Homo sapiens: one gene and its partner. The protein of the gene in region 1 purifies or fractionates together with the protein of each later gene. This does not show direct contact. Each region holds a gene or a part of one and is shown on either strand. Other genes may lie near its edges.

Region 1 (3,651 bases):
TGGAGGCGCCTCCCTGCAGTACCCGGGCCGAAAAGCGGGGGGGCGTGGGCGGCATCTGTGACGCTCCCCAGGTTCGCGGCGGGTCCCTCTGAGCCTAGTGGCTTTGCAGCCTGCGGGGAGCACGAATCCTCGGCTCCTTAGAGGTGGGCCTTCCAGAAGCCTTTGGCGCCTGGACCAGCCCAGGGCTCAAGTGGGGCCTCCACACTCTCAGAGCGGGAGGGCCCCCCACAGGCACCCCTGGAGCAGAGCGCAGCACACCTGGTGCTCTATAAATGCCGGCTCCCGCGACCAGACCCAGAGCCTATGGGATCAGCTGGAGGGGAGGGAAGGGGCAGCCCACTGAGCTGCAGAAGCCCTGCAGCTCCCCACCCCTGCCAGGAACCCCTTCCATCAGGAGAGCAATGTGGGGAGAGACCAGGCTCACCCACCTCCTTATAGACGCCAGTCCTTTCCAGGAGGGAGAAAGAGCCACGGGTCACTCACTTTAGGGTGAATTAGCTTTTCTCATGGGGGTTAAGATTTGCACAAAGGCAGTCAGGACTGTGGGGGCTGTCCTTGCCTCCCCCACACACCTGCTAGAGACAGCCCGCTGGAGGCAGAGAGATTTTGGTCCAATGACTGGGGACTGTTAGAAGAATCCAGGAGCAACTCTACTGTGACCCAGTTTCCCTTGAGTCATGGGCCTAAAATCTGCTTTGCAAAACATGGCAGATGCGGCTGAAAACTGACCACAAGCCTCTTAGCTTTCTGTTGAGGAGTCCAGATCTGTGCTATCAGCCAAGTGCCTAGCATAGGCTGCCTGCCTGTCCCCAGCAGCGACGAGGGCAGCAAGAGGGGCTCGTTCTCCCCACACCCCACTGCCTGTGATAGCTTCAGACAGCCAGGATATGGGGGGCAGGGAAACAGGTGCAGTCGGCGGCGCCTGCAGGATGCAGGCATGGCCCTGTCTGAGTGACACCTTCAGCCCAGAGCACTCAACCAAAAAGCTATTCTCCTCCCACCAACAGCTCGGGCCTTCCAAATGACAGCTCCTGCCCACCCTCGACAGGGAGCTCACTCCTGAGTGACTGGCAGAGGCAGCACTGGCACAGATAGCTACAGGCGAGGGCGTCGCCCCAGGCTCCGTATAGCACGGAGCTTCCCGGTATCAGCATAGTAATGGCGAGGGGGAACCCAGAGCGCCAGGGACATGGAGCTGCTGAATCCACAGAAACGAGGTGGGGGGCACACCTGGACCCAGGTGGAAAGTGGCTGGGTGGTGTTAGTCTAACCCACAATTTCACCTGACATCTCTACCCGAGGCATGGGCTCAGCTGGTCGGGGGCAGTCCTTAGGAGGTCTGGCATCCAGGGGGCAGAGCCCAGAGGCAAGACCTTCAAGGAGGGGGCAGAGCCAGTGCCTCACCACTGAGGAGCACCTCGAGAGGGGGCCGGGTGGCCGCGGGGGGAGAGCGGCATTTGCAGGGGCAACGTGTGGCCAGAGTCCCCTCACACACACGAGGCTGGTCCAGGAGCACCCCTGCAACGCTGAGGGCTATAAGTGGCCATGGAGGAGCCTGGCCGCTCTGCCAAGTCACCTCCCTCAGTGACACCTGTGTGCTGGGTCCAGCCAGCTTGCTCTGCTCTCTGGAGCTGCCGAGGGCCAGGGCTCCCCGCAGTGCCTGCTGTATTCAGAGCCCGTAATTATGCATATCTGTCCTGTGGGCTGAGTTGCAGAGCTGTTTAGGGAGGTGTTTGTGGGGCCTGTGAATCAGCAGCTCATGAGAAAAGTAGTGACTAGCACCGCAGAGCAATTAGGGCCTGGGTGCCAGTAACAAGCGGTCCCCTGCAGCCCCAGCAGGGCCCCTGCCAACCCCCATGCCAGCTCCTGCCCCAGCAGGGCCCCTGCCAGCCCCCATGCCAGCTTCTGCCCCAGGGGTCAGACTTGGTGACCTTGCCTCTGACAGCCAGCCCTGCCCCTCAACCCACTGCCTGCATAGATGGCTGAACCGCACCACCTCCAGGAGGCCAGGCCTCTGCTGGACACATGACCAGAGAAGACGCTTCAACCCCTGGAAGCTCACACACAACTGCACGCGCAACCACAAGACGACAAGCCTGATCACACAACCGCATGCAGTCAACCACACACACATGCACAACCACACAGCCAGGCATGCATATGACACAAACACAGAACCACATACAGATGTACGACCACGTGGTGCACACACAAACACAACCACAACAGCCACACGTACGCATAAGCACGCAGTCACACACAGGTGCATACAGACGCGCAACCACAGCGCCACTCTCCCTCCCCCCACGGAGTTGCCTGTGTCTCTTGAGGAACAGAAAGCAAAGCAGGAGACCCCAGCACACTGGATGGAGGGTCCCGGGCAGGAGGGTCAGGGCCAGATGGAGGTGGGAGGAGCGGCTGGAGGGTGGTGGGGGCAGCCAGAGGGTCGAGTGGATGGAGGGTTTGGGGGGTCGGCCAGAAGGTGGGGGAGTGTGGCTGAGACACTAGCCCGGCCCTGGACATCTGAATGGGGCGGTCTGAATCACCAACTTCTGTACCAGGGGCCACCAAGGACATGGGGAAGATGCTGGGGGGTGACGAGGAGAAGGACCCAGACGCCGCCAAGAAGGAGGAGGAGCGGCAGGAGGCGCTGCGCCAGGCGGAGGAGGAGCGCAAGGCCAAGTACGCCAAGATGGAGGCGGAGCGCGAGGCCGTGCGCCAGGGCATCCGAGACAAGGTGCGCGCCGGGCCGGCCCCGCCTGCGGGAAGGCGGCCCTGAGTCCAGCGGGGACCCAGATCCCGCCTGGGTGGAAGGGGCTGCCCGGAAGAGGGGCGGGCGTCCCCCTGGGCCTCCTACCCTTTGGGGGCTTCAGAGTGGCGGAGGGGTGAGGGGTGGGGGCTCCGGGTTGGGCTCCCTCTGTGGGGCCCAGCCCCTCCTGCTCCTGACCACAGCGCCAGCCCTGGCGGGCTTCCTAGGCCCGCATTCCGATGCGCAGCCCTGCGTGGAGCCTGGCTGGCTGCCTGGGGCCCTGGGCCGAGGGGTCGTGGGGCGGCCACCTGGCATGGGGGGTGCGCTCTCAGGTGAGCCCGGCCTGGAGTGAGGACTCAGGGAGGGGGGCACCCACTGGGATTCACGAGGCGGCCCAGAGTGGCTGCCAGCACCAGGACAGCCACGCAAGGTCACTCCCACTCAGCCCGGTCCCCTCAGCGGCCAGGTCCGAGGGGCACGAGGCACAGGGAGCAGCCTGGGTCCCGACAGCCGCTCCGGCTTCCTCGGTGGCTCCAGCACGGCCCTGGCTGGAAGCCGGGTGGGCACAGACATCAGCCTGGAGGAGTCTCCAGCCAGGGGTGAGCGGGCATGGTGGGAGATGTTCACATCCCACGTAGAAGGGGCCTGGGGTGCTGCCTGGGGCGCAGTGCTCACCCCGTGCCCTGGCCCCGAGGGTAGGGGCCGCAGCAGGCCCAGCAGGCCGGAAGCTGTGTTTCCCAGAAGGTGGCCTCAGTCCCCTGCCCTGGATGGGCCAAGATGGCCTGGCTTCGGGGTGGGAAGGTTCAGACTCCCGGGACCCCTCCCTGCTGCCGGCGGCACCTGGAGCAGGTGGAGAAGCCGTTTCCTGGCCTTGTGTCAGCCGCACCCAGGGAAGGGTGGGC
Region 2 (3,651 bases), on another chromosome or scaffold:
TGCTCACAGCTCACTCAATAGTCCACTTAAGAAACAGTTTCAGGGATCAATGTTACCACAGACAATCTTATTTTTTAGTTAGATCCTTTATACAAAAGTGGAATATGTATCCATCTATAACCAATTTTCATTTCTCCCATTAGTTCTCAAAGATGATCAACTGTGCTTTTATAATCATACTCACATACTTATAAGTGTACTCTGGGCTGTCAACTTCTGCACCTGAAACCTGAATTCACTTAAATCGATGAGGAATTTTTTTATTTTTCTCATCTAATTTGAACTTCAATTTCATAATTACATTATTTGTTCTACTCTTTCTTATAGGCAGACCTATCCTCTTATTAGAAAGCGAAACAAACAAACAACAAAAACAAAATACAGATCAGTTTTCTGTTACCTAACAACTGCATCATCTTCCCCAAGTAGTCAGAAACCTTTTTCTTCTTCCTCTAAATGTTTATTTAAGAATCCTTTAAATTGTGTTTTGGACATGTATACATGCTATCCTCTCTTTAGGAGTAAACTTTCTGGTCTAAAACTGTTCAAAGGTCCCTCCTCTTCTATAAAGCCTTCCAAAAAAGCCCTAAGCACAGGTGGCTGTCACATCCTTGGTCTTCTCTAGCATTTTACGAAGCCTTCTCCTACCCACTGCTTGTCTTCCTCATTAAATTTTAAGTTATTTAAGGATGGGGATGATGTCATATTCATCGAAGTACCTACTGTGCCTAGTGGCTGTGTCCTACAGTAACTCGGAGATGCAGGACTTAAAGAGGTCAAAACTAGAGATATGAACTTGGAAGTCAACAGCAAAAATGGCAGGAAAAATATAAAAGAAACAGCATTATTGAAAGAGAAAATTCCTGTGAGAGGAATGGAGAAGTGGATCACCCTTTGGAGACGTACATTAAAAAGGCAGGTAAGAACGCATAGAAAGGGAGCTTTAGAGGAGCAGTGTAATTTTTAAGTCTATCCTACAAGGGGTTTGAAAATAACGCCTCATATTCTTCATGGGCAAATCCTCAGTACCAAAATTGTTTTAATAAAATGAAACCAATATTAGTAAAAGTATTTATCTATTAGAAGATAAAAATAAGGACATAATAATATACTTACATTTTTTTCTGATAATTCAAGGGGATGACTAGGCAAAAGTTCATTTTTCACACAAGAAAAACTGAAAGGACATTAAAAAAAAAACATTTAGAGGAGATTAAATATCACTCAATACCCAGAGCTCAAAATCATATCTATAAAGGGATGGCATGAGAGAGTTTTTTGGGGTGACAAAACTGTTCTGTATCTTGACTGTGGTGACAGTCATAGGAATTGATACATGTGCTAAAAATTCATAGACCTACACACCAAAAGGAAAAAAAAAGGTATATATAATAATGTAAGAATGTATCCATTATAGACATTGGTGGTCAAGACTTCAATCACTAGGGAAAACTTGCCAAAATCTGGTGCCACATCTAGAAGAAATTTAATGAATGTATGTTTATTGCTATTACTCTGATGAGGTACTTCTTGCACTATATAAACTAAGCCTATTCCCTTCAGGTCTAACACTTTCAATATTTAATATATCTTTAATAAACATGTTGAACAATAGGTTTAACATTTACTGAACACCTACTATGTATAAAGTATGTTAGGTAAGGCACAACTAGAACCAGGCCACTGGTCTTTATCACTCTAGCTATATAAAGATGACTACCTTATTATCCAAACTAGGATTTTAAAGCTAATAAAAACCTTAGAAACCCTGCAACAATTGTTTATTGAATATTGTCTTTTTACAAAACATTATCCAGGAAGTGGGTTTTGAAAATGGTCCTGCCCCAGTCCAATCAGGAAGAAGAAGGAACATTTCATGTGGGGGGAAAAAAATCTTCAGACCTTAGTTACTGCCTAGCCAATCAACTTGATTATAAATATCAAATTATATCTCCAATTTCACAGGCTATATGCTGCATTTTTTTACTACAAAACTGAAAGTCTGTAATGAGGGATTATATTTGTACTCAGACACCAGCATTAGAATGCCATTCTATTATAGTAAGAGTAAATTACGGCCAGACGCAGTGGCTCACACCTGTAATCCCAGCACTCTGGGAGGCCAAGGTGTACGGATCACTGGAGGTCAGGAGTTCAAGGCCAGCCTGACCAACACAGAGAAACCCCGTCTCTACTAAAAATACAAAATTAGCCGGGCATGGTGGCACATGCCTGTAATCCCAGCTACTCAAGAGGCTGAGGCAGGAGAATCACTTGAACCCGGGAGGCGGAGGCTGCGATGAGGGGAGATCGCGCCATTGCACTCCAGCCTGGGCAACAAGAGGAAAATGCCATCTCAAAAAATAAATAAATAAACAAAAAATAAGAGTAAATACTTTAAAATTAGATGTAAAATTCAAAAATTCAAAACACAAAATGTTTATGGGGGAAAGGTCGTTATCCTTATTTTATTAAGCAGAAAAGTGACCTGCAAAGAGTATGGTCTAGTACCAGAAACTGAGACCTAAACATACAGAAACAAAAAGGAAATCAAAAACATGGCGTAACTGCATGCTAAAGCTAGAAAAGAAAAAAAATGGTAGCCAATACATACTGAGTGCTTCTAATGTCAGGTACCATTTAAAATATTTTTCAGGTATTAACTCATTTATTCCTCAAAAGAAGATACAGACTATTATTAGGCCTATTCTATCCATAAGGACACTGAGACATTAATTATGTGATTTGTCCAAAGGCACACATCTAGTAAAGAGCAGAGCCACGATCCAAACCCAGGCCGACTGAATCCAGAGTTTAATCTCTCAACTGCTATGTTCTAGTGCCTCCCAAAGAAAAGTGAATTACCCTAATAGTTAAGACAAGAAGGCAAATGGCTAAGTTATCAGTAGCAAAAAAATAAATAAAAAGAATCCTACCAAATCATGCTAATGGGCACCACTGCCTAGGAGGATGCTCTAATTGGGAACCTACTACTTTGATGAGACACCTCTTCCACTACAGAAAATATCTAAGCCTCTTCCCCTCTGCACCCCATGTAAGGTATATTACTTGCCATCTGCCAACTAAATACACATGTATAGCCTATCAAAATACTTAAAGAATATTGTGAAAATTCACAGAAACATAACAAAATCAAAGTCATAACTCCCCCATATACCCTTTCCGAAGAAGATCATGACTTTCAAAAGGTCCACTTGCTGAAAGTTCAGTAACTGGAATACTGTCCTTTAGCTCAGATCCAAGTCCTCTGGCATTCTACAACACAAATAAAAAACATTATTAAATAGAAAAAAAATTTAAACACACACCCAGGCAGCTGTGTCAAAAATATTGTTTAAGTAGGAGACAGAAAAATAAGAGGCCCTCAAAAAGTCCAGACTAGACAATTACAGCAAGCCTTAAACATTATGATATGATAGAGACACACATGGTACAATGAAAATACCAAATTTAGATGTGGGAAGGATTCCTGAGGTGATCTCTGAATGCTGTCAGTTTGAAAGGCATTCCAGGAAAAAATAACATGAATAAAGGCAAGAAAATATAAATGAACAAGCTTCAGGTAGTTTGAGATAACTGGCTAAATATGTTTCCAGTGAGGCAGAAGTAAAGGCTGATGAAATACAAAAG

Evidence for each region. Proteins that work in one complex are often made in the same cells at the same time.
Region 2: the proteins of CPLX1 (region 1) and POMP fractionate together in Homo sapiens (co-fractionation; one large-scale study listed by BioGRID). This does not show direct contact.

Annotation. Positions count from the first base shown.
Region 1 is NC_000004.12:791,519-795,169, reverse strand, and holds part of CPLX1 (complexin-1), read left to right. Parts: intron 1-2,561; coding exon 2,562-2,737; intron 2,738-3,651. UniProt on the Homo sapiens protein: Positively regulates a late step in exocytosis of various cytoplasmic vesicles, such as synaptic vesicles and other secretory vesicles.
Region 2 is NC_000013.11:28,662,035-28,665,685, reverse strand, and holds part of POMP (proteasome maturation protein), read right to left. Parts: intron 3,277-3,651; coding exon 3,179-3,276; intron 1,178-3,178; coding exon 1,117-1,177; intron 1-1,116. UniProt on the Homo sapiens protein: Molecular chaperone essential for the assembly of standard proteasomes and immunoproteasomes. Degraded after completion of proteasome maturation. Mediates the association of 20S preproteasome with the endoplasmic reticulum.